Linked DNA regions of Homo sapiens. The protein of the gene in region 3 interacts with the protein of the main gene of each other region in a pairwise test. Each region holds a gene or a part of one and is shown on either strand. Other genes may lie near its edges. The genes, in order: PRPS1, GSE1, LENG8 and CAMK2A.

Region 1 (7,125 bases), on a different chromosome or scaffold from region 3:
ATTTCTATGTATTATAATTTAAGCCTTGGGTGATAAAAATCTCACAAAGTTACTTATCCCCTCAATTTGGTTCCAAAAGGAATCAGCAGGCTGAAGACATTCAGACAGCAATTGCTAGCTTTTTCCTTCTAACTACCAGCCCCATCAATCCACACTTACTTGTCAGCTGCATGGCAGATTGTGCCACAAGTGTCAGCCATGTCATCCACAAGGATGGCCACCCGATCCTTCACATCTCCCACAAGCACCATGCGGTCCACTTCATTGGCCTTCTTCCGTTCTTTGTGAATCAAGGCAAAGTCCACATTCAGCCTGTCTGCAATGGAGGTCACTCTGCAAAACAGAGCGTGTTCATATGTATGTGTGGCTTCTAAGACAAAAGAAATGGACTAAAGAGGCCGGGGGCGGTGGCTCACGCCTGTAATCCCAGCACTTTGGGAGGCTGAGGTGGGCGGATCACAAGGTCAGGAGATAGAGACCATCCTGGCTAACACAGTGAAACCCCATCTTTACTAAAAATACAAAAAATTAGCTGGGCATGGTGGCGGGCGCCTGTAGTCCCAGCTACTCGGGAGGCTGAGGCAGGAAAATGGCGTGAACCCAGGAGCTGGAGCTTGCAGTGAGCTGAGATCGCGCCACTGCACTCCAGCCTGGGTGACAGAGCGAGACTCTGTCTCAAAACAAAAAAAAAAGAAAAAAAGAAATGGACTAAAGAATGGGCTTGTTTTGGGGAGGAGAATACTCCTTGAAACCAATAGTTCCCAGGGCTGGAAGAATGAAAGCAACTATCATTGACTTCTCAAAGGCAAATATCACAAACTGGGTTTTATAAACCAGTGCCTCCATAGCTCAACAGAAGCTTATGAACGTACTGATCAAACTTAGATGAGTATTCATTCTGGGTAGAGGACAGACACCCTCACCAGTACTGGGAAGCAGTATAACGCTAAGACACGCAAGTTTATTTAATGGATTGGCAGCAGAAGGAATGAGGAAAGAATTAACTAATGCCAGGAGTACACAGACTGTCCCAATTCCCATCATGGAAGACCCGTGAATGGGGATGTGGTGAGAAGAGAACCTGACTGGCAGGAGAGGAGCAGCATCCAGCCTGTTCCAATGCCTGTGTCCTCATCACTTCCCTCAGTGCTGTTGGCAAAACATCCATCAACTGTCACTGTCAACTGTACCTGGACACCAAGCTTGGGAGTTTTTTTCACAATTGCTAGACAGAAAGTTATATCAATTACCCAGACAAGCTAGGCATCTCACCATTCGGTCCAAAGTATCTTCCAATCAAAGAGAATTCTTATTTTTCTTATTACAAGAGAAAATAAACCAGACTAGAAGGTAGGATAGAAGACAAATTTGTCTTTTGACAAAGTACCACATAATTCAAACAAAAATCTATTCAGTGTAAATGACAGTGAGCTGCCCCAGTGGCACGTCTGTCCATGCTCCGCTGTGCCATCTCCGTCATGTGTGAAGCAGCCCGTGCTTGGGGATTTGTCCTGTTTTTTAATGTAGAACTGAACAAACTATAGCATTTTGTCCTGTTTCTCTTGTGACTATGGTCACATGAGTTTTTGCTGGATAAGTGAGAACCTGTGACCACATAATAAGGTTTGAACCATAATCTAGGTAACATTTGTACCTTGATCTAAACCAACCATACCCTGTACTCTCCATTACTACTACTGCATAAGCACATAACATCAGTGGTAACCAATTCGCTTGGAATGATTACTTACCCAAGGCAAATGCATGATCAATTAGTTCAAGTATCCCAAACCAACCATACTCAAAGGCCAACAAATTCAGTGACCAACAAAGCATAAAAAGGGCTAGAAAAAGTAACTCTCTACACCTTTTGAGGAGAGAACTACTGTACAAATGAATATCACACAGGGATCTCTACCTACTCCCCAAACCCTGCCAACACAGAAGTGATAGACACTCAATTGTAAAATACTCCATCACTATAAGACAATGATAATGAAAAAAAAATCAGGTAGCAATAAGTTGTCTACTAAAGGCAGTTTTCCTATACCCACCTTTGGAAAGAAAATCCTGCCTATTTCAAATGTGACTATTTTCTAAGTCCCACAGAAAGATATTAAAATAATGACCGACAAATTAAATATGACAACTACTAGTTGGGGGGATGTTTCTTAGGCTGTCTCTAGCATTACAGATGGTAACTAGCAATTACATGGGACTCACCAACCCATATATCTGGCTGGATAACATAACTCAAGTTCTCAGCTTATCAGTTCTGTTGAAGTTACTGAAATAAAAGAGGTTGTTGAGAAACAGTCATTGAAGATTTGAATGGCTTTTAGAAAGTTCTGAATTAGCTCTTCCTAATCATCTGTGTTTTGTAGCTCTTCATTCTATTTCCACAACAAGAAGAACATGTGTCACACTTTTGAATGCATTACTAACGAGTAATCCACTAAGGAAATCAAGAGCTCTTAGTCTGCACCATGTGAGCTGCAAAGCACTGTTAACTGGCAATCCCTGGCAATCAGTTTGTTTAAAATGTTAAGATCTTGGCTTTAAATAAAAATGTCACACTTTACTTTCCTTCCTGCTTAATATTTTAATCCCAAGGATCAAAATGATCTAACCAACAGCATTGTAAGAGGAGTGTAAAAGCGAATTTGTCCACCAATATGTGGTTCAATAGCAGCTGCTATTCATTAGAAAACCACATTTTCTACCCTTCCCAAAAGGTTTATAGCTGTATTGCTAGCTCTGTAGCACCAAGTTACTCATAAGTTATAGTCAAATCCATAATATGATGATTTAGGACCCCTTTTCTGTCTTGTCTTCCGAGTAGTAACTGAGGACAGTAAAAGAGGAAAGGGTAAAACTATATTCAACCCATGTGCTAGCTACTTACATCCATTCAAAAATACTTAAAAACTGCCACTTGGATAGAAAAACTTCACTTTGTGACACAACCATCTGAAAGATTTTCCCAGTACATTGGGAACAATACTAATTTCAACCATACCTCTTAGCTCCACCAGCATCAGGTGAGACAATAGTGCAGTTCCTCCACTCAGAGATATTCTCCCTTATCCACTTTAGGACAGCCGGCTCTGCATACAAATTGTCTACTGGGATATCAAAAAAGCCCTGTAGAAAGAAGCTGGATCAGTTTTGCTTCACTTTCCTTCTCTTCCATTTATAAATGGCAAACACAAAGTAGTAACTTGCTCAGAGAATGTCTTACTGCAACATTCAAACTGATGGGAAGGCAGGCCCAGTGTGGTAGATTATAAAAGCCTCCTTGAATCTGGGCTATGTGAGAGAGCCCAGCCAAGATCAGCAAAGCCAGCCCTCAGTCAACCCACAACTGAACATAGGAACATAAGTGAGCCCTTGTAAAGAATGGCTAAGTTCAGACAAAACCATTAAGAACTGCCCAGTCAACATGCAGACTCAGTGAGTTTGTAAATACTGCTTTATGCCACTAAGTGTTGGACTGATTTGTTAAGGAGTAAAAGCTAATGGATAAACCAGTTAGAGATGCTATGGCATATAAACTTAATGGAAGCTACTTATGATAAATAGTCACAGTGAATAATTAGAAATCAGGAGATCTGTGTTCTAATTCTAGTTGATACAAATTAGTTGTATTTCTCAATTAAGTCATTCCTTTCCATAAAAGGAGTACAGTCCCTGTCCAATGTACTTCATTGAATTCCCACAAGCTTGAAATGTAATGATTTGAAAAATCTCTTTGAAAAAATATAAAATAAAGGTGGTATTCCACCCCCCTTACTTTGGGTTTATGTTGGAAAGTAGGCTCCAATATCTGTGGCTCTAAATTTAAGACCATGAGGCCAGGCACGGTGGCTCATGCTTGTAATCGCAGCACTTTGGGAGGCTGCAGCAGGCAGATCACTTGAGGTCAGGAGTTCGAGACCAGCCTGGCCAACATGGTGAAACCCCATCTCAACTAAAAGTACAAAAAAGTTAGCTGGGCCTGGTGTCAGGTGCCTGTAATCCCAGCTACTTGGGAGGCCGAGGCAGGAGAACTGCTTGAACTGAGGAGGCAGAGGTTGCAGTGAGCCAAGATCGTGCCACTGCACTCCATGAATATTCAAGGAGAATAAGAATGATAATAACAGCTCCTATCTATGAGTACCTGTCATGGGCCAGGCATTATAATATGAATTTAATGTTTTATACTCACAATAATGAAAAAGTATATGTTCAGAGAAATTAAGTAACCTTCCCAAGCTTACAAAGCTAGTAAATACCAGAGCCTTTATTCAAAGTAGTGCTCTTCCCATAAAACTAGACTGCCTCCCTATCTAACCACCTGAAATGACTAAGATCATGAAGTATGCTTAAGGTGAACACATTTAAAATGTTGTTGATATCTAGTTTATTTCAGATGTACTTGGGCATAATTTTTGGCTTCTCTGCAGTCTTCAGCATCATCAGTCCTTTCCTCCCACCTTTCAAACACCAATATTTAGCTTCCACTGATACCTGAATTTGAGAAGCATGTAGGTCCATGGTGATAATATGATCTGCACCTGCTACAGATAGCATATTTGCAACAAGCTTGGCTGAGATTGGCGCCCGGCTCTAAATGGAGGGGAGGAAAGAAAAGAAAAACCAAAAAGCCAATTTGAAAAACAATTCATTTACTCAAGAAACTATTTATTGTGTACCTACTATGTTAAAGGCACTATGGTACCCAGAAATTCATAGAAGGAGACATGTCCATTGACTTTAAGTGGATCATAATTCAGAACAAATATTAAGTGGAACATCACTTTTCCAAATCAGGATACACTTATCAATAAAGAAAATGCTTTCCTAACTTTTGTTTTCTTAATGTACACATTTTCAATCCTATTCAAGTGTTTCCAATGCTCAATTATTCAAACTAGGCAGACTTTAAAAAATAATTTTATTAAAATCTCTTTCAACACATACATATGTAAACCTTTAACACCTAACATGTCAAGGTTTGAAGATACATCACAGAATAGATATTATAGTTTCCTTTGTAAATCACATCACTACTTACTCATCTGGAGGTCAACTTTCCAACAACTATGAACTCCTCAAATAAAACATACTTGCTGCACTGTAAAATAGCAAAGTCCATGCATGCCTTTTTTTTTTTTTTTTTTTTTGTAGAGACAGAGTCTTGCTCTATCGCCCAGGCTGGAGTGCAGTGGCATGATCTCAGCTCACTGCAACCTCTGCCTCCTGGGTTCAAGCAATTCTCCTGCCTCTGCCTCCCGAGTAGCTGGGACTACAGGCGCGCAGCGCCACGCCTGGATAATTTCTTTTGTATTTTAGTAGAGACGGAGTTTCACAGCGTTGCCCAGGCTGGTCTCAAAACTCCTGAGCTCAGGCAATCCTCCCGCCTCGGCCTCCCAAAGTGCTAGGATTGCAGGCGTGAGCCACCGCACCCGGCCCATGCCCTTTACTTTATACTCTGTTGGAATAAAAATATCTGACCTTCTTCGAGGCATTGTGTGTAAAATTGGGCATTAATTACAATAGACTTGCAAAGTTTTATGTATATGCCTTATCCTCTAATATACCAGGATAAGGTGAGAGATATATATAGTTTATCTATCTATCTATCTATCTATGTATCTATCAGATCAAGTATTCATATAACAGACTTCAAGTTTTATGAAGAGGTCACAACTAGGATCCCAATCTTACAGTTTGAGAGGATCTACCGTAATTTTAAAAATATACTCCAGTACTCCAGAGGAGTTGGTGCTTAGTCTTACTGATACAATTAAAAATACCAGTGAGCTAACTGAAAGTTATATATGTATCACTGTAATAAAATACAGACTACAAATGTGTTGCTTTATACAAACCAATTATATTTCTATTGTTTTGAAGATAGGGTAATACCTAAGAAAAGGTGATTTTTAAAATTCCCCCTAAATATATATTTGATAATTTTGGAATTTATTTGTGATTTGGGGCAAGTGCTCCTGCTTCCTCTGCTCAAAAAATAAAATTCTGCTCCTACCTTATCTTTCTTATCCTGCCGGGCATAAGGGAAGCATGGGATGACTGCAGTAACCCGGCTGGCTGAAGCAATCTTGCAGGCATTAATCATGATCAAAAGCTCCATTAAATTGTCATTGATTTCGCCACAACCACTCTGAACAATGTAGACATCCTCTCCACGTACACTTTCACCAATTTCCACACTACAATGAGGAAAGAAAGAACATGAAATAGATTTTAAACCACTGTACTGTCAGCCCTCCATATCCATAGGTTCCACATCTATGGATTCAACCAAGTGTGGATTGAAAATATTTGGAGAAAAAATTGCACCTGTATTGAACATGTACAGATTTTTTTCTTTGTCATTATTTTCTAAATACAGTATAACAACTATTTACGTAGTATTTATATTGTATTAAGTATTATAAGTAATCTAGAGATGATTTAAAGTATATGGCAGGGCTGGGCGCAGTGGCTCATGCCTATAATCCCAGCACTTTGGCAGGCCAAGGTGGGTGGATCACTTGAAGTCAGGAGTTCGAGACCAGCCTGGCCAACATGGCGAAACCATGTATCTCTACTAAAAATACAAAAATTAGAAGGGCATGGTGGCAGGCGCCTGTAGTCCCACCTACTCAGGAGGCTGAGGCACGAGAATCGCTGGAACTCAGGAGGCGGAGGTTGCAGTGAGCTAAGATCACACCACTGCACTCCAGCCTGGGCAACAGAGTGAGACTCTGTGTCAAAAATAAAATAAAATAAAATAAAATATATGGGAGGGCCTGGCATGGTGGCTCAGCACTTTGGGGAGCAGGGGGCAGGGTAGAAGGAGGATCATTTGAGCCCAGGAGTTCAAAACCAGCCTGGGTAATACAGTGAGACCCCATCTCTACAAAAAATAAATAAATAACAATAAAGTATAAGGGAACATGTGCATAGATTATTTCATATGGCCGGGCGTGATGGCTCACGCCTATAATCCCAGCACTTTGGGAGGCTGAGGTGGGCGGATCACCTGAGGTCAGGAGTTCAAGACCAGCCTAGTCAACATGGTGAAACCCGTTTCTACTAAAAATAAAAAAATTAGTCAGGGTGTGGTGGCTCACACCT
Region 2 (7,000 bases), on a different chromosome or scaffold from region 3:
GGCTGGCAGGTCATTCCCACCAACTCTGGCTGAGGATCTTAGCTCAGCCCTTCAGAGTGAGCCCTGGGGGTATATGACGTGGGGGCCTGGGACCAGCACAGCCCCAAGGCAGGAATCCCAGGGCAGGCAGGGGCAGGGAGGACTGGGGGCACTGGGGCCCAGCTCATAAGACCTGTGTCTGCAGCCGGGGTCCAAGGGACCACCACACAGTTTCCTGGGAAATGCTTTCATAAAGGGCTAGAAAACGGGCATGTGTTTTTACTATTAATACAAAAGCAATAAAACTCATTTTTTTCCTTAAAATCAAAAGCTGTCCCCTTCTTGTTAAAAAAAGAAGTCCAGGCTCAAAAGCAGAGGAAGATGGAGAGAACAGGTATTATTAGTAATTAAAGCTTCTACCTTGCACTCTTCATCTGCTGTGAATGGCCTCCTGGGAACTAGGTCAGGCTGCGTGTGCAGTGCCCTGGCTCTCAACATGGACTTGATTGGTCTCTTTACTTACTGGTGGGGATACCTTTGAGCAATCCATTTTCTTCCTCAGTCTCAGCTTCCCCATAGGCAAGACAGGCATTATAACGTGAAGATGAAAGAACAGAAATGAAAGAGGCAGGCAGAAACGCTGGGGCAGGATGTTGGGCAAACAGGAGGTGCTCAATACACGCTGAACAAATCGGAACGTGAAGGCTCATCCCTCCTTCCTTCCTGGGGCTCACTCACCTGGTGGTGCTCTCCGGCCTGTGCTCTGCCTCCGCCGGCACCGGGGGCCGGCCCATATCCAGGTGCTGCTCCAGCACCTGCTGCCGGAACTCGGACACCTGAGACTGCCGGTCCTCCTTCTCCTGCCGCAGCCGCCGCTGCCGCGCCAGCCACTTCTCCTCCTCATTGGTGCGCTGGATCAGCAGGGCTGTGGCAGCACTGCTGCTAGGCAGAGAGAAGATGCCATGGTTGGAGATGAGGCTGGGCACCGTGTGGTGTGGGGTGGGCACCGGATGCAAGGGGTGTTGGACGGGCTTGGGCGCCTGCAGGCCGGCATCCTTCAGCTTCTCTGTGGGGGGAAACACGGTCAAGCAGGATCTCAGCCACGTGGGCCAGCATGCTCCCTCCCCGTCCTCTCTCACCCAACTGCCCAGAGAAACCAGAGCCCTTCCAAAGGGTTCTTCCCGCAGCCAGAACCAAGATATTCAGAAGGGGCCCTACGGGAGCTTTCAAGAAGCATGTCTTGTCCCTGGAAGGAAACGCTCCGTGGCTGGCTGGCAAAACTCTTGCCCAGCCAGTGCGGTGCCAGAGCCAGCTCATGCTGGCTCAAAGAGCAGACTATTAAATTTCCGGGAAACATGCAAAAGCTGGTTGTTATTACTGGACAATTGTTTCGTAAACTTACAGAGAAATAAAATCAACGAAGCACTCAAAACATCCCTTCCTAATGCCCCGGCTACATTTCACAACTGTCCTCCTGGGGTCAGCTATATCCACTGTGTCTACATCGTGTGCCAACGTGCCTCTGCTCCCTACTCCATGTTCAGCCACACCACGCTTTTAGGGCGAACTCAGCTGGGGAACATTTACACCACGGCAACCGGCAGGTGCTGCGATTCAGGGCTCCTCCCCGCGGGTGGCTGAGACCTTGCCCAGCACAGCCCACCCACGCCCAGGTACCTGCTCGGGTTGGGGTCAGCTGCTCCGAGGGCTTGCCCCGCTCCTCAGTGGCATGGCCACGCAGCCCATGCAGCTCGGCCACGGGCAGGAAGCTGGGCTCCAGGGCCTTGGCGGCCAGCAGCTCCTTCTCCCGGGCCCGCTGCTCCCGCTGGCGCTCCAGCTCGCGCTCGCGCTCCTTCTCACGCTCACGCTCCTTCTCTTGCTCGCGCTCCTTCTCGCGTTCGCGCTCACGTTCCTTCTCCCGCTCGCGGTCAGCCTCACGCTCACGCTCGCGCTCGCGCTCGCGCTCCCTCTCCCGCCTTAGCTCCTCGTCCATCTGCAGCCTGCAGCACATGGAAAGAGTTGGGGGCTCTGCTGCACCAGGAACAAGAGACGGACCTGGGGCAGGCCCTTAAAAAGCATAACCAGGAACGAGCCAGGGCGCTAATCTGAACAGTGACGGGAGGTGAGCCGGGTTTCACTGGTGCAGGAAGAACTTAAGGTCCATACAATCAAAGCGGCTTACAAAATGCCCAAGCACGCCCGAGAGCTCCTCGGCCTGCAGGTTTACTGCAGGAGACCACGGCTACCGAGACAGGCGCTATTTCAGAGCAGAGCCTGAACGATCATTGTCCCATTTGGCAGGTGGACAAACTGTGAGGACAGGCATGGCCAAGGAGTCCAGTCAGGTTCCAGCCCAGGCTTTCTGCCCAGCTGCCATCAAGGGACAGGGAGGGCAGAGGGGCTCCTCGGCTCGAGACGCACTTACCTCTCCGCGCTGAGGCCAGACATGCGCTCCGAGTGCAGCGCTGCCAGGGATGAGTGGGAGAGCTCGGGAGGGTAGCGGACCCCAGAGAGGTGCAGGTGCATCGCTGATGGGTGCAGTGGGGGCAGGGAGCCGGGGGTGGGGATGGGGTAGAACGGGGACCTCAGGGCAGACAGGCAGTAGGAGTCGTCCATCCTGTGCAGAGAAGACGGGGCTGTGAGCAGCAAATGAACCAAGGGGAAGACCCAGCCCTGTCGACAGGTGTGTCTCAGCCAGGTACACACACCTGCCTGAGCGTGGGGAACGTGACAAAATGGCTGGGGATGAAGACCATGCCTGCTGCTAGCCCCAAAGCCCCTTGATGCCGGAGGCTGCTAGGTGCCGACAGCTTGGGGTTCCAGGGCGCCGCCTGCCACCTCCCTCGGCTCAGCCAGACCAGCACAGAGTGGTCAAGCGCCCAGGCCCTTCCAAGGCTGGCGAGCAGGCTGGGCTGCCCTGACGTGGGGTGGTCCATGACATGACTACAGGCCCCTCTGACCTCTGACAAGGATGGGCAGAGCTTCTCCACGGACCCAGGCCAGACCACAGTGCCACCGAGGTCTCCTGCTACACAGCAAAGCATCGCCTCTCCCACGGGCAAAGCCCTGCTCTCTTAACAGTGACTTGCTGTCAATGGACCCCCCGGTGAGAAGGGGAGGAGCCAAGGATGACAGTACAGTCACCAAGGGGGACTGTCTACCAGGAGGGGACCCCTAATGGGCCATCAGGGCTGAATTTAGGCTCAAAGCTGGGGACGATTTCAGGGGCTACTCTAGACCCTCCCCTAGGAGCCTGGCTCTCAGGTCATAAGAAACACCTTCCCCGCCAGGTTCCATCTTGCCAGGAACAGGCCAGCACCTAGACGAGAGGGCGCGTGGGGGATGCCTCACCTGAAGGCCGGGTGGGGGAAGGGGTGTGGGGCCAGGTAGCTGGGGTGGTAGTAGGCTGCAGCAGTGGCCGGGTCCAGGCCGAGGGGAGGCAGTGAGGACATGCGGAGGTCGTCGGTGGTGTGGTAGGGCCGGAAGCTTCTCAGGTAGTCCTCGGTCACGGTACTGGGGGGCACCACGTGGTGCACGGGCCGCTGGAGGCTGCAGGCGGGGATAGTGGGCAAGGTGGGGACAGGTGAGTGCACACCTGCTCCTGCATGGGGGGACGGCTAAACTCCCTGCATCACCCCTGGCGCTCAGTCGGCACCCAGACTCCTGGCACCCCGAACGAGGACGGGGCTTAAGCAGCGGGGGGAGCGAGCTGCCACTGCCACCTCAGTGTGAAGGGGCACAGACAGGGCTGCAATCCCCAGGGCTCAGCGGCCGACAACCATCTAGCAGGCACAGCCTCATCTGTGCAGACCGCAGGCTGCCTGGGGACCCAGACCCTGAGCACTGTGTCCCCACCTGGCCACCTCACCGAAGTCCCCGCCGACCAACTTACTTGAGTGGCGGGAAGCGGGAATCCTGCACAACTGAGCTGGGGGAGAGGCCGAAGGGGTAGGGGGTGCTGAGCAGGTGCGAGGGGATGGCTGGTCCCCCTGCCTTCTCCTGAGGGAGCGGGGGCTCCACAATGAGGCGTTCCCGACCTCCACTGCTGCTCCTGGAGCCGGCATCCTGCGGGAGGAGAGCGTCCAGTCAGGGCAGGAGCCTGGTATAGGCCACTGACCACAGGACACAGCCAGGTCTCCTGACTCACGGGAAGGCGCTAGATTTAGTTCATGTTCTAGAAACATCCTTTCCCTAAGGCTTTCTACGCAAAACATGGTGCATGTGGTGTGGGAAGCAGAACCGTAAGAAAGGGGATGTGGCTGCGACAGGTCTGGGGTGAAGTGCGTCTCGGGATCCGTCTCCCTCCCTGGGCCTCCTCAGTCCAGCAAAAGAACTAGAACCCCCCAGAAACACAATGTGTGCAGGTGAAGGATGCAGGGTGGCAGGGGCTCCTGCCTCCACCCCTCCTGGTGTGGACATCCGAAGGTCACACCAGACACACACCCGGGGAAGCAGACACCGTTGGCACCCAGCACGCCGTGAAGCGAGTGCCACGATGTAGCCAAGACGTCAACTGCGCCGACAGCTGCCCACCTGGCCGCAGATGTCCTGGCCCTGGTGCCCACGTGGAGGGCAGGGGCAAAGGAAGCTGGCACTGCCCCTGGGCCGAAGGTGCTGGTCTGCCCCCAACCACCTCCTGGGGTGGCCCTGGCCCTGGAGCCCACCAGAACAGGCAGCAGCTGGGCCCTGACTGGCCAGCTGGGGTACCGGCCTTCACACACACGGTGGGGCAGGGAAGGCAACAGCTCGCCTGTCCCAGGCTCCTGGACACAGTGGACCTGGGTGTAGCTGGGAAGGTGGTCCAGAGGACTCAGATGAGGGGTCTTCTCCAGGCACAAAGCAGGAGGAGGCAGTGGCCCAAAGCCCACCTTCCGGGCTGAGGTCCCTGCCAAGTTCAAGGATAGGCCGTGCCACCCCTAGCCACGCAGAGGCTGCCCCGCACACACGCAGGGTCCAGCCCGGAGAAACCAGAGCATGAAAAGGCCTTGCTTGTTCCTGTTATTCGTGTGACTAAGTGGGAGGAGGAGGAGGAGGGGGTAGGAGGAGGAGGAGGGGGTAGGAGGAGGAGGAGGAGGAGGAGGGGGTAGGAGGAGGAGGAGGAGGAGGGGGGAGGAGGAGGAGGAGGGGGAGGGGGGAGGAGGGGGGAGGAGGGGGGCGGAGGGAGCCTCAGGGCGGCCCAGATGGGGGCTGTGCTCTGGACTCTGGATGGCTGCCAACCCAGGCGTCACTCTGTCACTGGGGCAGCCGTTCTCAGCCCCAGCATCTTCCCCATGTGGGGACAGCACTGCCCAGGCCTACCCTGACCTGGGGGTGTCTGAGAGCCATGGCCACGCTGGCCCCTCTGAGCTTCCCAGGGATGCAGAGCCACGGGAACCCGGCCCTTCCTCACGTTCCATCTGGCCATGTCAGGTAACGACTGCTGATCAGCGGGCAGTGCTCCTGAAGAGCACCAGCCCCGCTCTGCCTCCCTGAGCCACGAAATGCCAAACACCCAAAAAACAAGGAGGCCATGGCCGTCTCCCCACAAGATCAGCAGGAATGATGGCCCAGGGGCTCTGAGACCTGCCCCACCGTGGAGAAGCATCTGTCTCCCAGGGGCCGTGCCTGTGTCCCTGACCCGCCAGCCCCTCTTCCTGGGCCCATCCATCTTCATAGCGGCAGACGGTGACCCGGCAGCAGCACATGGCACCCGCGCAGAGGCAGTGCAGGCAGCCCGGGCCGGCGCCTCCCCTCTCTCCACCCTCCAGGAGACAGTCAGCGAGGATTAACTGGAGGAGCCGCCGCCGCCGCCGCCGCCTGGAATCTTCAATGAGAGGCAGCATCTGCTCCCTTCCCGCGGGCTGAGCCCCGGCCCCCCTTCTCTGTAGGGTCCTCCTGGGTTCACGACTTCTGACCTGCCTCTCCAGGGTGCTGGTCTCGAGGGTGGGAGGTACACATGGGCACTGACGCCCTGCGTGGGGCCGGGAACTTCCTATTGAGGAGCCAGCGCCTGGCCTTGGGGTCTCCAGCCGGTGTCAGCAACCGGGGTAGTGGGGGAGTGGCCGAGGGGCCAACCTGACCTTGGGAGACCTGGCCATCCTGTCGTGCCTCGTGCACACATCAATGGCATGTGCCCGTCACGGCACCTGCTCAGAGGACAGCAGAGTTGATGGCACGGCTATGAACGGGCATGCGGGGGACTCACAGGGCAGCAGAGTTGATGGCACAGCTGTGCACGGGCATGTGGGGGACGCACCAGCAGGGTGGGGGCCCGGACATGGCAGGTGTGTTGCCAGGCTGGCCTGCCTACCCCAGCCCCGTGAGGCTATTTCCAGGCTGGGCTTCTAGATCCTGCCTCACGCCCCTACCCTGCCTGGCATAGGGCCAAACATCTGAGGAACGGAGCACGAGGAAGGACACACCCTGTTCCTAGGGTCTGGGATGGACTTAACAAGACGGAGTGGCCCCTGGCCCCCCAGCATCCAAGTAGCACCCCAATGAACACCAGGCCTAAAGCTAGTGGGTCTCTGGATGCCCAGAACAGGGGCCTCGCCTGCTCAGGCACCCGGGGTACCTGGACTCCCCCTCCCAGGCTGGTGGGGAGGCCTCCAGGGCAGGAGGGAGACGACAGCCAGGGGCTTCAATCATCACCCAGCCTTGGGTGGCCAGAGTCAGAAGAGGGCTGGAGGACAGACCTCGACCTGAGGACAGCACCCAGGGTCAAACTACCAACAGCCCAGGCCTGCCGCCCTCCTCCGCATGCTGCCCGCGCCGTGGGCCGGGTCAAACGGCAAAGCACAGGGCCCCAGCCGCCCCGCCACAAGGAGGGGCCTGTCCCCAGCCCAGACACGGCCCTTGAACCCCTTCTCCCCTCAGCCGAGGACAAAGCCCTGCTCGCAGGCCAGATGGCACCTTCCTGGCCTGGCTGAGGACAAACAGGGAGTCCGGGGGGCTGGGGGGCAGCCAGCAGGCGGGGCAGGGGCCCGGCGAGCCAGACCCACATGTCTGTGGCTTCCGTCTGGCTGGCGCCCGGCCAACCCTG
Region 3 (7,167 bases):
GGCTTCTTCCTTCCTCAGCTTGCAGATGGACTATAGTGGGACTTTGCCTGATGATCCTGTCAGCCAGTTCTCCCTAATATACTCCCTTTCAATATATACATATATCCTGTTAGTTCTGGCCCTCTGGAGAACCCTAATACAGATGGCAAATAAACACAGGAAAAGATGTTCACCGTATGTCATTAGGGAACCGTCCGTTAAAACAAGACACCACTGGCCGGGCGCGGGGGCTCACACCTGTAATCCCAGCACTTTGGAAGGCCAAGGCAGGTGGATCACGAGGTCAAGAGATCGAGATCATCCTGGCCAACATGGTGAAACCCCGTTTCTACTAAAAATACAAAAATTAGCTGGGCGTGGTGGCGCACGCCTGTAGTCCCAGCTACTCGGGAGGCTGAGGCAGGAGAATCGCTTGAACCCAGGAGGCGGAGGTTGCAGTGAGCCGAGACCATGCCACTGCACTCTAGCCTGGAAGACAGAGTGAGACTCTGTCTCAAAAAAACAAAAAAAAAACAAGACACCACTACATACCTATTAGAATGCCAAATCCAAAATGCTGGCACCACCAAATGCTGGCAGAAATGTGGAGCAACAGAAACCCTTCTTCATTGGTGCTGGCAATGCAGAATGGTACAGCTACTTTGGAGGACAGTGTGGTGGTCTCTCATAATCCTAAACATACTCTTAGAATATGAACCAGCAACACTGCTCCCCAGTATTTACACAGATGGGTTGAAAACTTCTGCCCACAAAGAAATCTGCACGTGCACGTTTATGGCAGCTTTCTTTATCACTGCCAAAAACTTGGAAGGAACCAAGATATCCTTCAATAAATGTCTTACTACATTCTGGTTGTTGTAACAAAATACCATACACTGCGTAGCTGAGGCAGGAGGATCACTTGAGCCTGGGAGGTTGAAGCTGCTGTGGGCTGAGACAGAGATCACATCATTGCACTCCAGCCTGGGTGACAGAATGAGAAACCCTGTCTCAAAAAAAAAAAAAAAGTACAGTTTTGGTTTTTGCTGTGACTGGGCTCCTGGAGTGAGAGCTCTGGATCCCAGCTGCAAGATGAGGAATCTGGAGCCGAGAGAAGGGAAACGAGTTTTCCAAGTCATACGGCTGGTTAAGTAAAAGAGCCGGGATTATGACTTAGGTTTCCTGCCCCCCAAGATTATTATTTTTTGAAACAGAGTTTCGCTCTGTCTCCCAGGCTGGAGTGCAATGGCATGATCTGGGCTCACTGCAACCTCCACCCCCAGGGTTCTAGCGATTCTCCTGCCTCAGCCTCATGAGTAACTGGGATTACAGGCATGCGCCACCATGCCCGGCTAATTTTTCTGTATTTTTAGTAGAGACGGGGTTTCGCCATGTTGGCCAGGCTGGTCTTGAACTCCTGACCTCAGGTGATCCACACGCCTCGGCCTCCCAAAGTGCTAGGATCACACGCATGAGCCACCGCGCCTGGCCTACCCAAGATTATTAAAATAAGTTTTCAGAAGCAACCCCCTACTGGCCAGGCGCAGTGGCTCATGCCTGTAATCCCGGCACTTTGGGAGGCAGAGGCGGGCGGGTCACCTGAGGTCCGGAATTCCAGATACTGTGAAACCCTGTCTTCACTAAAAATACAAAAATTAGCTGGGTGTGGTGGTGCACGCCTGTAAAGAGAATTGCTTGAACCTGGGAGGCAAAGGTTGCAGTGAGCTGAGATCGTGCTACTGCACTCCAGCCTGGGCGACAGAGCCGTCTCAAAAAATAATAATAATAATAGATTTTTTAAGAAAAGCAATCCCCTAGTGACTTCTTAGAGCACATCATCAGACAGTTGGGGTAAAATTCTGAAGTGGATTAAGGGAGGGGTGCTGGTTTGCCTGGATGGCTACATGAACATAGCCCTGGAACCAACCAAATATGTAACTGGACAACAGAAAAATAAGTACAGGGTGCATTAATCAGAGGCAACAATGTTTTGTACTTAAGTACACAGAAGACACGATGTGAAGACACCAAGAGAACAGTACTTTTCATGGTTAGACACATTTCTTAGGTATTTTTTCTACTTTGGGATTCTTTTGTGATATAATTTGTCCTGTTTACATAATTTTTTTCCCTGACATGTAAGATAAATGTATCTAATTGTGGGCTTACTTGTAAAGAGTTTTCACATTTAAGTTCCAGTCATTTCATTTTATCGCTGTATCTGTGTACAGAATGCTAAAGAATAAGACATAAAAAATAAAAGTACAGTTATAAACACCTCTTTTAAAAGGCAGAGACTGTTCGCTTGGGCAAAAAAAAGCAAGATCCAACTACATGCTATCTACAAGAAACCCACCCTAAATACAACAGGTAAAAGGAAGCTAAATGGAACGTGGGTCCTGGCTTGTACCCTGGCATGTAAAGAAAACATTGGAGGAAAAGGTGGTGAAATCCCAGTAAAGTCTGGGTTTTAGTTACAGTAATGCATCATGTCAGTATCTACAACAAACCACTTTTGTTGGTGCTTGTGATGACAGCATCAGAAGAAAGTGGGCATAAAACATGGTGGACTGCTTATGATCTTTGCAACTTTTCTTTTTTTTTTTTTTGAGACAAGAATTTCACTCTTGTTGCCCAGGCTGGAGTGCAATGGTGTAACCTCGGCTCACTGCAACCTTGGCCTCCTGGGTTCAAGCGATTCTCCTGCCTCAGCCTCCCGAGTAGCCGGGATTACAGGTGCACGCGCCACCACGCCCAGCTAATTTCTGTATTTTTAGTAGAGACGGGACTTCACCATGTTGGCCAGGCTGATCTTGAACTCCTGACCCCAGGTGATCCACCCATCTCGGCCTCCCAAAGTGTTGGGATTACAGGCGTGAGCCAGCGCGCCCGGTCTTTGCAACGTTTTGAATAAATCCAAAATTATTCCAGAACAAAAAGCTTAGTACCAAAAAGAAAACAAAAACAAAAACAAAACAAACCCCCCCCCCCCCACAGAGTAAAATAACGGAAAAAGATCTACTATGCTAGCACTAACAAAATAATACGTAGTTATGAAAATGGTATGTATTTTTCAAGCTAGACGTTCATAATGGTAGAACATGAGGAGGAAAACTGCCTCTTAAATCCCACCACTTACTGTGACACAGTGACCGGTCCCTGCAGCGGACTGGATAGTTGTATCAGAGTCCTGGACGGAAACAGATGGCACTCAAAAGGTGGCGCGCAGTTCAGAGAAATGCCTATGTACGGATTTGGTCCAATGCCTCAGCCTGACCTCAGGGACCTTCGGGGGTCTGCTCCGCGCCCACCCTTACACATCTGTGACCCCACACACTTCCACCCCAGCGCCACTGCCAACAGCTACACCCATCCCCCTCCAACCGCGTCAGCTTCCAGCCTCGGTCCATCTGAACTCGCCGTGCCCCCTCCCCTGCGCCCTTCCAGATTCATTTGCTAGGGAAGCCCGCTCTTCCGGGTGGAGCTGTTCCTCATCCCCTTTCTTTATCATTCTCTCCCCAGGGCTTCCACATCACCGTGCTGTGGACAATCCCGGAACTCCTGTCACGCCAGTTTACATTTAGGAACAGTAATGGCTCCCACTGACTCAGTCAAAACAAGGCTGCGGCCGGGCACGGTGGCTCACGCCCGTAATCCCAGCACTTTGGGAAGCCGAGACGGAGGGATCACGAGGTCAGGAGTTCGAGAACAGCCTGGCCGACATGGTGAAACCCCGTCTTTACTAAAAACACAAAAATTAGCCGGGCATAGTGGCGCGCGCCTGTAATCCCAGCTACTCCGGAGGCTGAGGCAGAATTGTTTGAACCCAGGAGGCGGAGGTTGCAGTGAGCAGAGATCACGCCACTGTACTCTATCGTGGGCGACGACAGAGCAAGAGCAAGACTCCGTCTCCGAGAACAACAACAACAGCAACAAGAAAACAACAATAAAAAAAATAAGGCTGCGTGGGAGGCAGAAAGAGCTAATGCGGCCACGCTTGTCTCCTCGGGGCCACCGTCCCCACCCAGACTTCCGGTCTGCCTTAAAATGTTCATGCGTAAGTGCGTGGGCAGGAAGGCGGGCTCAAGCGCAGCTCGTGGCGTTCATTGGCTGTGCAGGGCCGAGGGAGGCGGTGCAAGGCCGCCGCGTGACGTCAGGACGCCGCGGTCAGGACGTCGAAGCCAAAGAAGACCAGAGCCAGCCGGGTGGCACAGCGGTGTCGTGGCCGTGTTGCTGATCGCCTGGGTGGTTGTTGGCGTGTCCCTGCAGCGAAGGATCCTGGTTGGTAAGGGGAGCGGCAGGCGAGCAGGCGGGCGGGGATAGCATCTCCTTTTGGTCTTGCGCCCCGCGAGCCCCGAGGCCTTCTCGGCCGTCGCAGCAGCAGACGCCGCGCGCGAGCGTCGACAGGGTGTGGCGGCGCAGGGGCAGCCACTGCGCCTGCGCACCGGGCCTGGGGCCGCGCGTTCGGGCACTAGCGCGCGTGCGCCGTCGTCTTCTAATTTCCGTTCCTCTCCCTTGGAGTTCTCGGGGCCCCGGGGCGCCCCTCACTCGCCGTTGACCGGGTGTTGCCCCGGGCGACGGGCGGCTCCTGCGCGTCTTTCTGGGGCGTGGTGCGCAGGCGCGGCCTGGGCAGTGGCTCCGTGGCTAGTCGTGGGGATCCGAGCGGCCTCCTCCACCCGGCGTCCTCCTTTGCCTTCGCCCAGCCTGCGGGACGGCCAGGTGCTCCCGGGACCTCAGGCCTCGCGTCTGATGCCTGTCTCTGTTCTTGAGACCCGTCCGGGAGTCCTCTGTCCAGCCCCCAACTCCTGACCTTACCTCTAATCTCCCTTCTGCCCTGGGGCTCCTCTTCCTGTGTCCCCGCCACGATCCCTCGTCTCCACCCACGCCCTGTGTCCTGTTTAAGTTAAGCCTTTGCGTTTCTAGGGCTTTTCCCCAGCTCCAGACTCCCGTTCCTATCCCGTCAACTCGTGGGAATTCCGGTTCTCCTGCGGGATTAATTATCCTACTTATCAGTTACTCCCTCTCGGGAGTTTAGGCTCCTGAATCCTTGCTCCGGAGACACTCCACTTTTCTTCCAATTCTCTCTGTACCCCACTCTTAATTCGTTGAACATGTTTTGGGTCTTCTTTGGCATTCCCAAAGCTTTATGTCCAGACACCCAACCACGGTGATCCCTTTTCTCTCCCAGCCCTACCCCTGCTTCCGGGAACCTCCCGTGGAAGCAGGCAGGGGTAGTCCCACTGAGGACTCCCACGTAGGTCTCTTTACTGCCCTTCGGAGACCTTTTTGAAATCAGTCTGTCAGTGCTAAGAACCCATTTCTTCACGTTGGGGTTCACGTTGGCATTCTCAGGAACGCTCAACGACCACTTGCTTCCAGGGTTAACTTCCGGAAAATCCCCTTTTCCTCTCAAAATTTTCTTCTCTTCTCCAATATTCTTCCAGCCCCCTCGATGCTCCCTGAAAGGCCTCCCTTTTCACAGAGTTCTCGGAAACCTTTCCACCCTCTCAGCCTTAAGGGTTCCCTCAGACTCTTCTCATTATAGCATCCATCCTCTTGGTTCAGGTTCCTTTCACAACCCGTACTCCCTAGCTTTTTTTTTTTTTTTTTTTTTGAGACAGAGTTTCGCTCTTGTTGCCCAGGCTGGAGAGCAATGGCGCAGTCTCAGCTTACCGCCCTCCGCCTCCCGTGTTCAAGCGATTCTCCTGCCTCGGCCTCCCTAGTAGCTGGGATTACAGGCATATGCCACCATGCCCAGCTAATTTGGTATTTTTAGTAGAGACGTGGTTACTCCATGTTGGTTAGGCTGGTCTCGAACTCCCGACCTCAGGTGACCTGCCCGCCTTGGCCTCTCAAAGTGCTGGGATTACAGGCGTGAGCCACCGCGCCTGGCCCCTAGAATTTTTTGTAGACCTTTTCCCCTTGATGGAGGCACCCCTACCCTCTGGACCTTTCATCACAGCCTCTCTTTGCTCACATGGGTTTCAGACCCTTCTCCTTCCCTTTGGGAAGTCTGCTCTGGCTTCCCTGTTTCCAAATCCTTCGTTTTCCACCTGGAGCTCTACAAAGGGGCCAGGGGCTTCCCCTCACTCCAGCCTTTCTAGTCCACACCCAGAACTCTTCAGATCCTTGACCCCAGTGGCTTTTCAGTCAGCCTCCCCTTTTCTGCCCGGCTTCTCTTGAGTCCATCTACTTTTCTTCCCCACTTTGTGACGTGTTTTTAGCTCCCCCTTAAGTCTCCCTAACTCATTCTTTTTCTCATAGACAGTGAAAAAGCAGTCTGGCTCCCGAGGTCCACCCCTTATACCCCAAGGTCCAGATGGCGGCCAACGTGGGTGATCAACGTAGCACAGATTGGTTAGTGAGGCGAGAGGGATGGAGGCCAGTCGGGAGGGAAAGAGGAAGCAAGACCCAGTGCTGTCCTCTGGGGTGGGACCTCCCGTGGCCTTAGGGGAGGTGATGCCACAATCCCTGTGGGTGGGGGTGGTGGTGAGGCAAACACAGAGGGAAGCATTTGGTTGTGGTGTGGAGAGGGGCAAGCTTTCACCTCTCTGAGCTTTCGTTTTTCACAGTACAGCGCTTGCTTTGCAGAATTGTGATGATTCATTCAAGCAAGTGTAATTAGGAGGCAGCTTCCCAACACTCAATACACAGTCATTTATTTGTTTTTCTGCTGATTCCTTATTTTTTCTCAAAATAGTGTGATAACCTGCCGACTGGGGTGATGTCAGACAGAATTCATTGATTCATGAAAGACATAGCCCTAGGAGGTGCCAAGGCCTGTGTTCAGTTCTGTGGGTTCTGTTAATTGTTTTGTTTGTTTGGTTTTAACAACTGCTGTGTGCCAGGCTCTGGGATAAGTACCTTAAGTAGGTGATCTCATTTATCCCTCCCAGCAGACTCTGAAGCAGAAACCCTTTATCAGCATAGTACAGATTAGAAAACTTAGGCTTAGACTGGTAGTAACAGTTAGATATGGGATCCAGGGGCTGGAATTTGCCTCCCAACTTGCCCACCTGTGTACAGTGGGGAGAACAGGTGTGACTTGATGTCCTCTCTCTCTGCAGGTCTTCTCAGTACAGCATGGTGGCTGGGGCAGGCCGAGAGAATGGCATGGAGACGCCGATGCACGAGAACCCGGAGTGGGAGAAGGCCCGTCAGGCCCTGGCCAGCATCAGCAAGTCAGGA
Region 4 (7,885 bases), on a different chromosome or scaffold from region 3:
AGTGGAGCCCAGAGATGCCTGGTGAGACCCCCTGTTTCTTCCTTGGCTGCACCAGATGGCAGCTGATCTGCCAGCTGTAGGGGCCAGAGCCAGGGGGCAGCCTGTCCAAGCTGGGCCCTGCCAGTAGAGTCCTGGGCTCTGGTAACCCATTCCCCAAGGGCCAAGTGATAGCCCCACACCTGGATGGAGGGCCAGTGCTCTGGGCTCCATCTTTCTCAGGAGGAAGTGGAGGTTCTACTGGGGAGACCTCCTGCAAGCTCTTCCAGGACTCGAACTCAGGTCCTCTAACTGCAAGGAGTGCTATGCAGCCATCGGCCCAGTAGCCATTGTCCTCTGTCCCATGGCTCTCTGCTTCACTCTCCCCTGCAAGAGTGCCTCCTGTGTGGGAGACCTCAGGGACAGTTCTGCTCCCTGATCCCTGACTTCCCCCACTTCTTCATGTAGGCCTAGCCTTACTTACTGCAATGAATGAACCCAATCTCCCTCCACCCAGACCCTCAGCAGGACCATTTCTCTCTTGGCCCACTTTCCACCAATTCTGCCCCCCATGCTCACTGCCCTTAGTGGGACAGGCCCTGTGGGGACCCTTTGGATGGCACACTTTCTGTGGTGCCTGCCCAGGCCCTGCAGGACCCTGGGGCACTTGGGCATATGTGTGTGGGCTGTGGAAGGTGGGATTTGAGTCAGCTGTCACAATGCCACTGGGGCTACAATCACCCATGCAGGAACCCAGCCCTGGTCACTTTTCATCCCTTCTGTCTCTGTGGAGCACTGCCTGTGTTCACGTGCCAATCCCTATTCTGGCATGTCAGGACTGGGTTCAGCAACCTCCAGGGCTCCCACCCCTGGCGACCAGCCCATAGCATGGAGGCCTGCTCTCGAATACCACACGCGTGTTGCAGATGGGGGCACACGTGCTGCCTCTCGTGTCTGCTTTGGCCCTGGGGAGTGGGGAGTTTGGCAGGAACAGTCCCCCTCCTGCAATCATCGGCTCATTCTCTCAGCGCCACAGAGGCACGGCTGGCTCCTCAGTGCCCGCCACCACCGGGCACAGCTGCTAGCCTCGCGGGCTCAGGGGAGGTGGTGAATTAGCAGTCATGCCTTCTCAGCAGAGTGGCTATTACCCTCAGGAAGGTGGGGGGTGCCTGTCCGAGGCAGTGCCCACACCGCTGAGCTAGGCTCTGGAAGGCTCAGAGGGGTGTGTGTGTGTGCTCATGTGTAAGACTTTCAGAGGGGACTTCTTCCTCTTCTCCCTCCTCTTCTTCTCTCTTCTGCCTCTCCAGCCATCTCTCTGCTATCTGGATCCTGCAGCCCTCAACTTGCCCATCCCCCAGGACCGCATGCACAGTGCAGGCCAGCAGGGGAGGGAGAGAAGAGTGACAGAAAGAGAGGGAGCTGGAAACCAGAAAGGAAGTAAAAAAGATGAGAAAGACGGAGAACTGAGAAGGAAGGATGCAAAAGAGGGAACAGGAAAAATGAGGGAGAGGGGAAGGCAAGAGGAGAGAAGAAAGGAGAGTGGAAAGGAGAGATGGAAGTAGGGAAGAAAGAGATGACAGGAGCGGGGCTGTGCTGGCCCTGCTCCCAGCAGCCACAGAGGCTGCCCCCGTGGTCCACATCACATACAGGGAGAGAGGTGGCCATCTTCCTGCCTCCATTCCTTCACACCTTCCTCTGAGGGACCTGATGCCAGGGTCTTCCCCATGTGCTCTGCTCACTTCTGAGCATGCTCCATTTCATCAGTGGGAATCGGGAGAGGAAACAGGGGTCAGGCCAGCACCCAGCCACGCAGGACTGTCCCAGTTCAGAACATTAGATTTCCATTAATACAGCCTCATAATCTCACAGCATAGTTGCTTTTTTGTTTTACTGTGAATTTTTAAAACAGCATCATCATTCCTTTGGCACCCGATGAGCTGGAGAGCCTTGTGGTTCCTCTCCTTCTAGCTCTAGTTCTTTGTTCTACAGAAATTGCTGCAAACTAGGCTTAGACAAGGTGATTTCCAAACCATGAGCTAAACTCCAGTGCAGACTAAGGGAACAGTGCCCTGAAGTGCTGGGACTCAAGATGATGGTGTGTGCTTCCGTGATTCAGGGAGTGGTGTGTGAGGGGAGAGGACTTTTGAGTTTCTTGATTATAATTTCCCATTTATTGAGCATTTATAGTGTCAGCCACTGTGCTTGTCTCATTTAATCTACAGAACAGCCTGGAGGTAGGGAATATTATTGACCCAATTATGCAGATGAAGACACAGAGGCACGGAGAAGTTAGGATATTCATCCAAAATCACATAGCCCGTAAGTCGTGGAGTCACCCTAACTACTAAGCAACACTGCCTCTCCTGTCCCTGTGCAATGGCAGGTGGCCTTGGTGGTCACTAAGGGCTCTTCCAGCACTTTCTTGTGTGGAAGCCATCCCCTCCTGGGGGACAGGCTAGAGGGTCTGGGACAGGAGGGTGGCAGTGCAGCCCTCCCCCACCTCCCCACATAGGCCTGTAGCTTGGCCACCGTGTTCTGTGCCCTGCCTGCTGCCCACTGGCTGTGCGGCCCCCAGGCATAGGCCTCTCCACTCTGCCTCTGAATTGCAACGTTGGCGGCAGAAGCGGGAAGCATATTGTGCGCAGAAACAAAACTGAGTGGTTTTCCCTTTTCCCAAAGGTGGTAATGGTGCAATTAGTGGCTAAGCCATTACCCCCCTCCTCCCTTGCTCACTTCCCCTCTTCCCCTCTGCCACCCTCCCTCTCCCACCCTCCCTCTCCTCTCCTGGGAACAGCGGCTGAATGGGTGAGCTCACCCTTTATTCTCCCCCACAGCCCACTCCCAGGAAGAAGGGCAGAATGGGAGGGTTATCCAGATGTCTCCAGGGGGCCCCTGCAAGTAGGGTAGTGAGTCAGGGACTTCATGGGGTTGGAGAATACCAACAAGCAGATAACATGTCCTGCAAGTGAGAGGACTAGCAAGGCAATGTGGAGGTTCAGAGCGGGTGGGCTAGAATCCCTGAGGGTCTGGATGCCTGGATCCTTTTATCCAACCCATGCTCGCTGGGGGCAGGTGCTGGCATGAAGCCTCTGCCCATCAAGCTGCGAAATGGGCCAAGGCACCCTTTTTCCTCAGTGGAGAGGGGAAGGGGTATGCAGGGTCTGAGATGCCAAGCCCAAGCTAGAGTGATGGGGTGGTCACGGGCCAGCTTTAAACCTTCATTTTCCTCCTCTAGAGCCTAGAAAGAGGCCTCCTATTTACATAGTTCCCAAAGGCCTTCACAGCCCTTAGCCCACTCCATCTCCACAGCCTTCCCCTGCAGGGCATCTTCATTCCCCTGTTGTGTAGAAAAGGAGCTGGAGGCTCAGAGAGGGTGAGTGACTTGCCCGTGATCACTCAGCTAATAAATGTCCAAAGGCCGGGCATGGTGCCTCACACCTGTAATCCTAGCACTTTGGGAGGCTGAGGCAGGTGGATTGCCTGAGCTCAGGAGTTTGAGACCAGCCTGGGTAACATGGTGAAACCTTGTCTGTACTAAAACACAAAAAATTAGCCAGACGTGGTGGTGTGCGCCTGTAGTCCCAGCTACTTGGGAGGCTGAGGCAGGAGAATCACTTGAACCCAGGAGACGGAGGCTTCAGTGAGCCGAGCTTGCACCACTGTACTCCAGCCTGGGTGACAGAGTAAGACTCTGTCTCCAAAATAAATAAATAAATAAATAAATAATATAAATAATAAATGTCCAGGAATCAGAGCTCAAACTCAGATCCTTAGTCTTAAACTCCAGTCCCTTTTCTTCCTAACTCCAAGACCTTGGAGTAAGATCTTGTGGCTGTAGGTATGGCTGATGCCCTGAAGAGTTGAAGTTGGCAGGGAAGGTGCCCAGAAAATTTTGGATTGAAGATTTCATGGCAAGTCTCTGGCCAGTGGCCTAGCCCGGGTAAGCCATGCTATGCTCACCTCCCCACAGCCCCCTCTCGCCTTTTTTTTTTTTTTTTTTTTTACCTTGACTGGAAGCACAAGCAGAAACTGGGACATGAGCACCAGGAGACCAGATTTCCATGGTCCCGTTGGGGGCATGGGGTTGGGGAGAGGTTGCAGAGGAGGGCTCTGGAGGGGAGCAACTGTCACAGCTGTGAGAGGTGGGGGTGAGCAGGCAGTCAGGGCTGTTCCCTCCAGAATCCTGGGGTGTCCTCTGCACTTCTGCGCCAAGCTGGAGTGCTAGTGTGATGGACAAGGTGGTAAGAGAGCTGAAAGAGCACGAGCATAACAAGAAAGACAGAGGCAGAAGCAAAAAAAAAAAAAAAAAAAAAACAGAGGGCAACAGAGAGACAGTTACAGAGACTACAGTGATCCACAGAGGGAGAGCCATCCCTGTGAATTAGCCATCATTTCCCTGTAAACCTTAGAACCCAGCTGTTGCCAGGGCAACGGGGCAATACCTGTCTCTCTAGAGATGAAGTTGCCAGGGTAACTGCATCCTGTCATTCGTTCCTGGGGACCATCCGGAATGCGGCACCCACTGGCTGTTACCATGGCAACTGCCTTTTTGCCCCACTTAATCCCATCCCGTCTGCTACAAGGGCCCCACAGTTGGAGGTGGGGGAGGTGGGAAGAGAAAAGATCACTTGTGGACAAAGTTTGCTCTATTCCACCTCCTCCAGGCCCTCCTTGGGTCCATCACCCCAGGGGTGCTGGGTCCATCCCACCCCCAGGCCCACACAGGCTTGCAGTATTGTGTGCGGTATGGTCAGGGCGTCCGAGAGCAGGTTTCGCAGTGGAAGGCAGGCAGGTGTTGGGGAGGCAGTTACCGGGGCAACGGGAACAGGGCGTTTTGGAGGTGGTTGCCATGGGGACCTGGATGCTGACGAAGGCTCGCGAGGCTGTGAGCAGCCACAGTGCCCTGCTCAGAAGCCCCGGGCTCGTCAGTCAAACCGGTTCTCTGTTTGCACTCGGCAGCACGGGCAGGCAAGTGGTCCCTAGGTTCGGGAGCAGAGCAGCAGCGCCTCAGTCCTGGTCCCCCAGTCCCAAGCCTCACCTGCCTGCCCAGCGCCAGGATGGCCACCATCACCTGCACCCGCTTCACGGAAGAGTACCAGCTCTTCGAGGAATTGGGCAAGTGAGTTGTGCCTCAGGAAGTCCTGGAAGGCATGGGGGGCGGGGAGGTCAGGGTCTCTAGTGGGGTGTGTGTGCCTGCAGTGCTTGGGGAGCATTCCTTGTACACAGATGAAGGCAGGCTGCATGGGTTTGGGGGCACCTGCCTGTGTACAGAGTGTCCAGAGTCGGGCGTGGGTATGTTTGTGGGTGCACAGATGTGCCAAGCTAGCCAGGCCAGTGTGTATGTAGGGATGAAGGGTTGACAGTGTATGCCAGTGCACACACATACACACAAAATGCACACAAGTACACACAACCTGGATACACACAGATTCTTAGAGACTTAGGGTTAAAAAGGGATTTTCCTAGTCAGCTGGGTCCAAAGCTGGAATTCCTTCTCTAGTTTTGCTTGAGGTGGCCATCCGCCCTCCACTTAGATACCTCCAGTGACAGAGAATTCACCAGCTCCCGGTAGTTCTTCCTGACTTTAGACACCCACAGTGACTGTACAGAGTGGCCAACTTCTCCCTCCCTACCTCCCCTTTCTCAGCTCCTGCCAGGAGTGAGGGCGTCAGTACAGTAGGGGTTAATATCTGAGCATGACAGGCTTCCCGGGTGTTGGGAGGTGGGGAGAGGAAATCAGGAAAGCTGTAGCGGGGAGCACCGCTGTTTCAGGGGCTAGGGTATGAAGGGTGCAGTGGCTCTGGACAAGCAAAGTTGCCCAGCCCAGAGCTCATTTTCTGCCCTGATGACTGCTGTGTAGAGAAGGATGGGAGGATGAGGAAAGAGGGGAGGCCCTTGTGGGTGGCCCAGTAGGGTGTGGAGTGTCAGGGAGGGATTCCTGGATGTCCCCAGCTGGGTTTCTGGAGGATCCTGGGATGGGTCAAGGGTTGGGTGCATTTTGGAGGCAGAGTTTGCCTTGTGGGCAAAGGAGCACCGATGCCCTGGTTGGTTTCTGCTGAGGCAGCAGGAGCACGGGGGGAGGGGCCCTGGAGGCAGGTGTGTATTGGTGTGAGTTCTGAATGTGTGTGTACTAGTGTGCATTTTGAGGAGTGATGTGTGTGGCTGTAGAAGGGCTTTTGAGGGAAATTGCTTGTGACACTGGGGTACGCTGGTGTGCCCTGCCAGGGTGTGCAAGCATTCATGCATGTGCACCAGGAAGAGGTGCTTCGTGTGTAAGGCCTGAAAATGCAAGTGTGCCTTGCAAGGGTGCATGTGTGTGAGTATTACAAGAGTGCTGTTGGCTGGGTTGAATGAGAACAAGGGTGTAAACATGACTCATTAAATGTGCACATGTATGGCAGGTTAGAGCTGTGTGCACATAGGAAGGCACATGTGTGTGAGGTCTAGGGGTGTGTGAGGATGCTCATATGAGATGCGGACACAATGGTGTTCCTGTGAGGTCTTGATATGCACATCTACGTGAAGACTGGGGTCATGCACACAGGATGATGTACGTGTGTGTGCACACGCATGTGTGTGCATGTGTGAGGCCTGGGCTCACAGGGTTATGTGGGAGTATGGGTGTTATAGGCATGTGTGAGCTCATGCTGGTGTCTGCATATGTGTGGGAGGTGGCCCTGTGACTGTATACAGGAAGGCTGCTTGCACACACACACACACACACACACACACACACACACACACAGAGGCTATCCTACAGGCATGCACCACCTCCCTTGAGCACATATACCCCCATGTGTACGTGTGTTCACTCTTATCTGCAGACTTTCAGCTTTTCTGAATGTGCTTTTTTTGCGGGTAGGGGCAGGAACAAAATGTTTGGGGCTGCTCTGGAGGACTGAGGCTGTCTACAAACTTGTGCAGGGACCCCTCTCCAGGTGTTTTCCAGTGCTCGCCTAGAACCCAAGAATTCCCTGATTAGCCATGAAGCTGCCTTTCAGGGAGTGACCAAGACTGGGTCCTGGCAGGACTGCGTCATGAGTACAGTGAGATGGAGTTGAGATGTGACTCAAGTGCTCAAAGTGAAAATAAAAGTGATGTTTTGCCCCAAGAGGAGATGGATATCATTAAGACTGGGTTTTGTGGGGGCAACTTGGTAGAGAGACCCTTCGTGAGCCTTCACAGAGAATTTCAGGGGCAAGGGAGCCCTGGTGTGGCCATGGCAGGAAAACCGAGGGTAGCAGGCATAGCTAGGCCTTGTTTAATCAATTTCAGACTTCTTCCTTCCAGAACCATCAGACTGCTCTTAACCTTTTTTAGGTCACATATTCCTTCAGGAATCTGATGAAAGTCTAAATCTACGTTCCCCAGAAAAACGCACAAACCTACGAAATGTTGCATGCAATGTCAGGAGCTTGCAGGGACATCGGGAAGACTGTGTATGAGCCTAAGTTTGCAGAAGCTTGTGTTAGAGACAAGGGGATAAAGTGGACTGATTCCGCACCCCTGATGTCTGTGTTAAAAAGTCCAGACCACATCATTGAGGAGCCTGGGGCTCCTGCTCTCCACAGCAGCTTCAGTCTGAGCATCCAGTGGTGCAGGGAGGGGCAGTGCCCTGCGTAGCCACTAGGGACACAGGCGCTGTCCCTCATCACCCATAGCTCTGTGACACCAGGCAGGCTATGCTACCTCTTTACCCCCACCTGTAGTCTGGAGATAAAAAGGGCTGTGAGCATTCAATGAGATGGTGCATGTAGAGATGCAGCCTCGAGCCTGGCACATGACAGGCCCCCAGGGCCGATTGCTACTGGGGTGACTGTTGTTGTTCTCAAAGGCTGGGCAAGGCTGAAAGTGAGGAATGGGATCTGCTTGTACCTTTTGTCTGGAGTTGGCCCATCCGGGGCTGGGA

Evidence for each region.
Region 1: the proteins of LENG8 (region 3) and PRPS1 interact in binary tests that used the Homo sapiens proteins (3 or more experiments, as listed by UniProt).
Region 2: the proteins of LENG8 (region 3) and GSE1 interact in binary tests that used the Homo sapiens proteins (3 or more experiments, as listed by UniProt).
Region 4: the proteins of LENG8 (region 3) and CAMK2A interact in binary tests that used the Homo sapiens proteins (3 or more experiments, as listed by UniProt).

Annotation. Positions count from the first base shown.
Region 1 is NC_000023.11:107,638,385-107,645,509, reverse strand, and holds part of PRPS1 (ribose-phosphate pyrophosphokinase 1), read right to left. Parts: intron 6,216-7,125; coding exon 6,032-6,215; intron 4,609-6,031; coding exon 4,510-4,608; intron 3,145-4,509; coding exon 3,020-3,144; intron 334-3,019; coding exon 160-333; intron 1-159. UniProt on the Homo sapiens protein: Catalyzes the synthesis of phosphoribosylpyrophosphate (PRPP) that is essential for nucleotide synthesis.
Region 2 is NC_000016.10:85,651,322-85,658,321, reverse strand, and holds part of GSE1 (genetic suppressor element 1), read right to left. Parts: intron 4,045-7,000; coding exon 3,872-4,044; intron 3,529-3,871; coding exon 3,331-3,528; intron 2,597-3,330; coding exon 2,405-2,596; intron 1,980-2,404; coding exon 1,657-1,979; intron 1,046-1,656; coding exon 718-1,045; intron 1-717.
Region 3 is NC_000019.10:54,445,047-54,452,213, forward strand, and holds the start of LENG8 (leukocyte receptor cluster member 8), read left to right. Parts: upstream 1-4,152; 5' UTR 4,153-4,264; intron 4,265-4,610; exon of another isoform or gene 4,611-4,698; intron 4,699-6,243; 5' UTR 6,244-6,298; coding exon 6,299-6,336; intron 6,337-7,046; coding exon 7,047-7,167.
Region 4 is NC_000005.10:150,286,774-150,294,658, reverse strand, and holds the start of CAMK2A (calcium/calmodulin-dependent protein kinase type II subunit alpha), read left to right. Parts: upstream 1-4,885; 5' UTR 4,886-5,033; coding exon 5,034-5,095; intron 5,096-7,885. UniProt on the Homo sapiens protein: Calcium/calmodulin-dependent protein kinase that functions autonomously after Ca(2+)/calmodulin-binding and autophosphorylation, and is involved in various processes, such as synaptic plasticity, neurotransmitter release and long-term potentiation.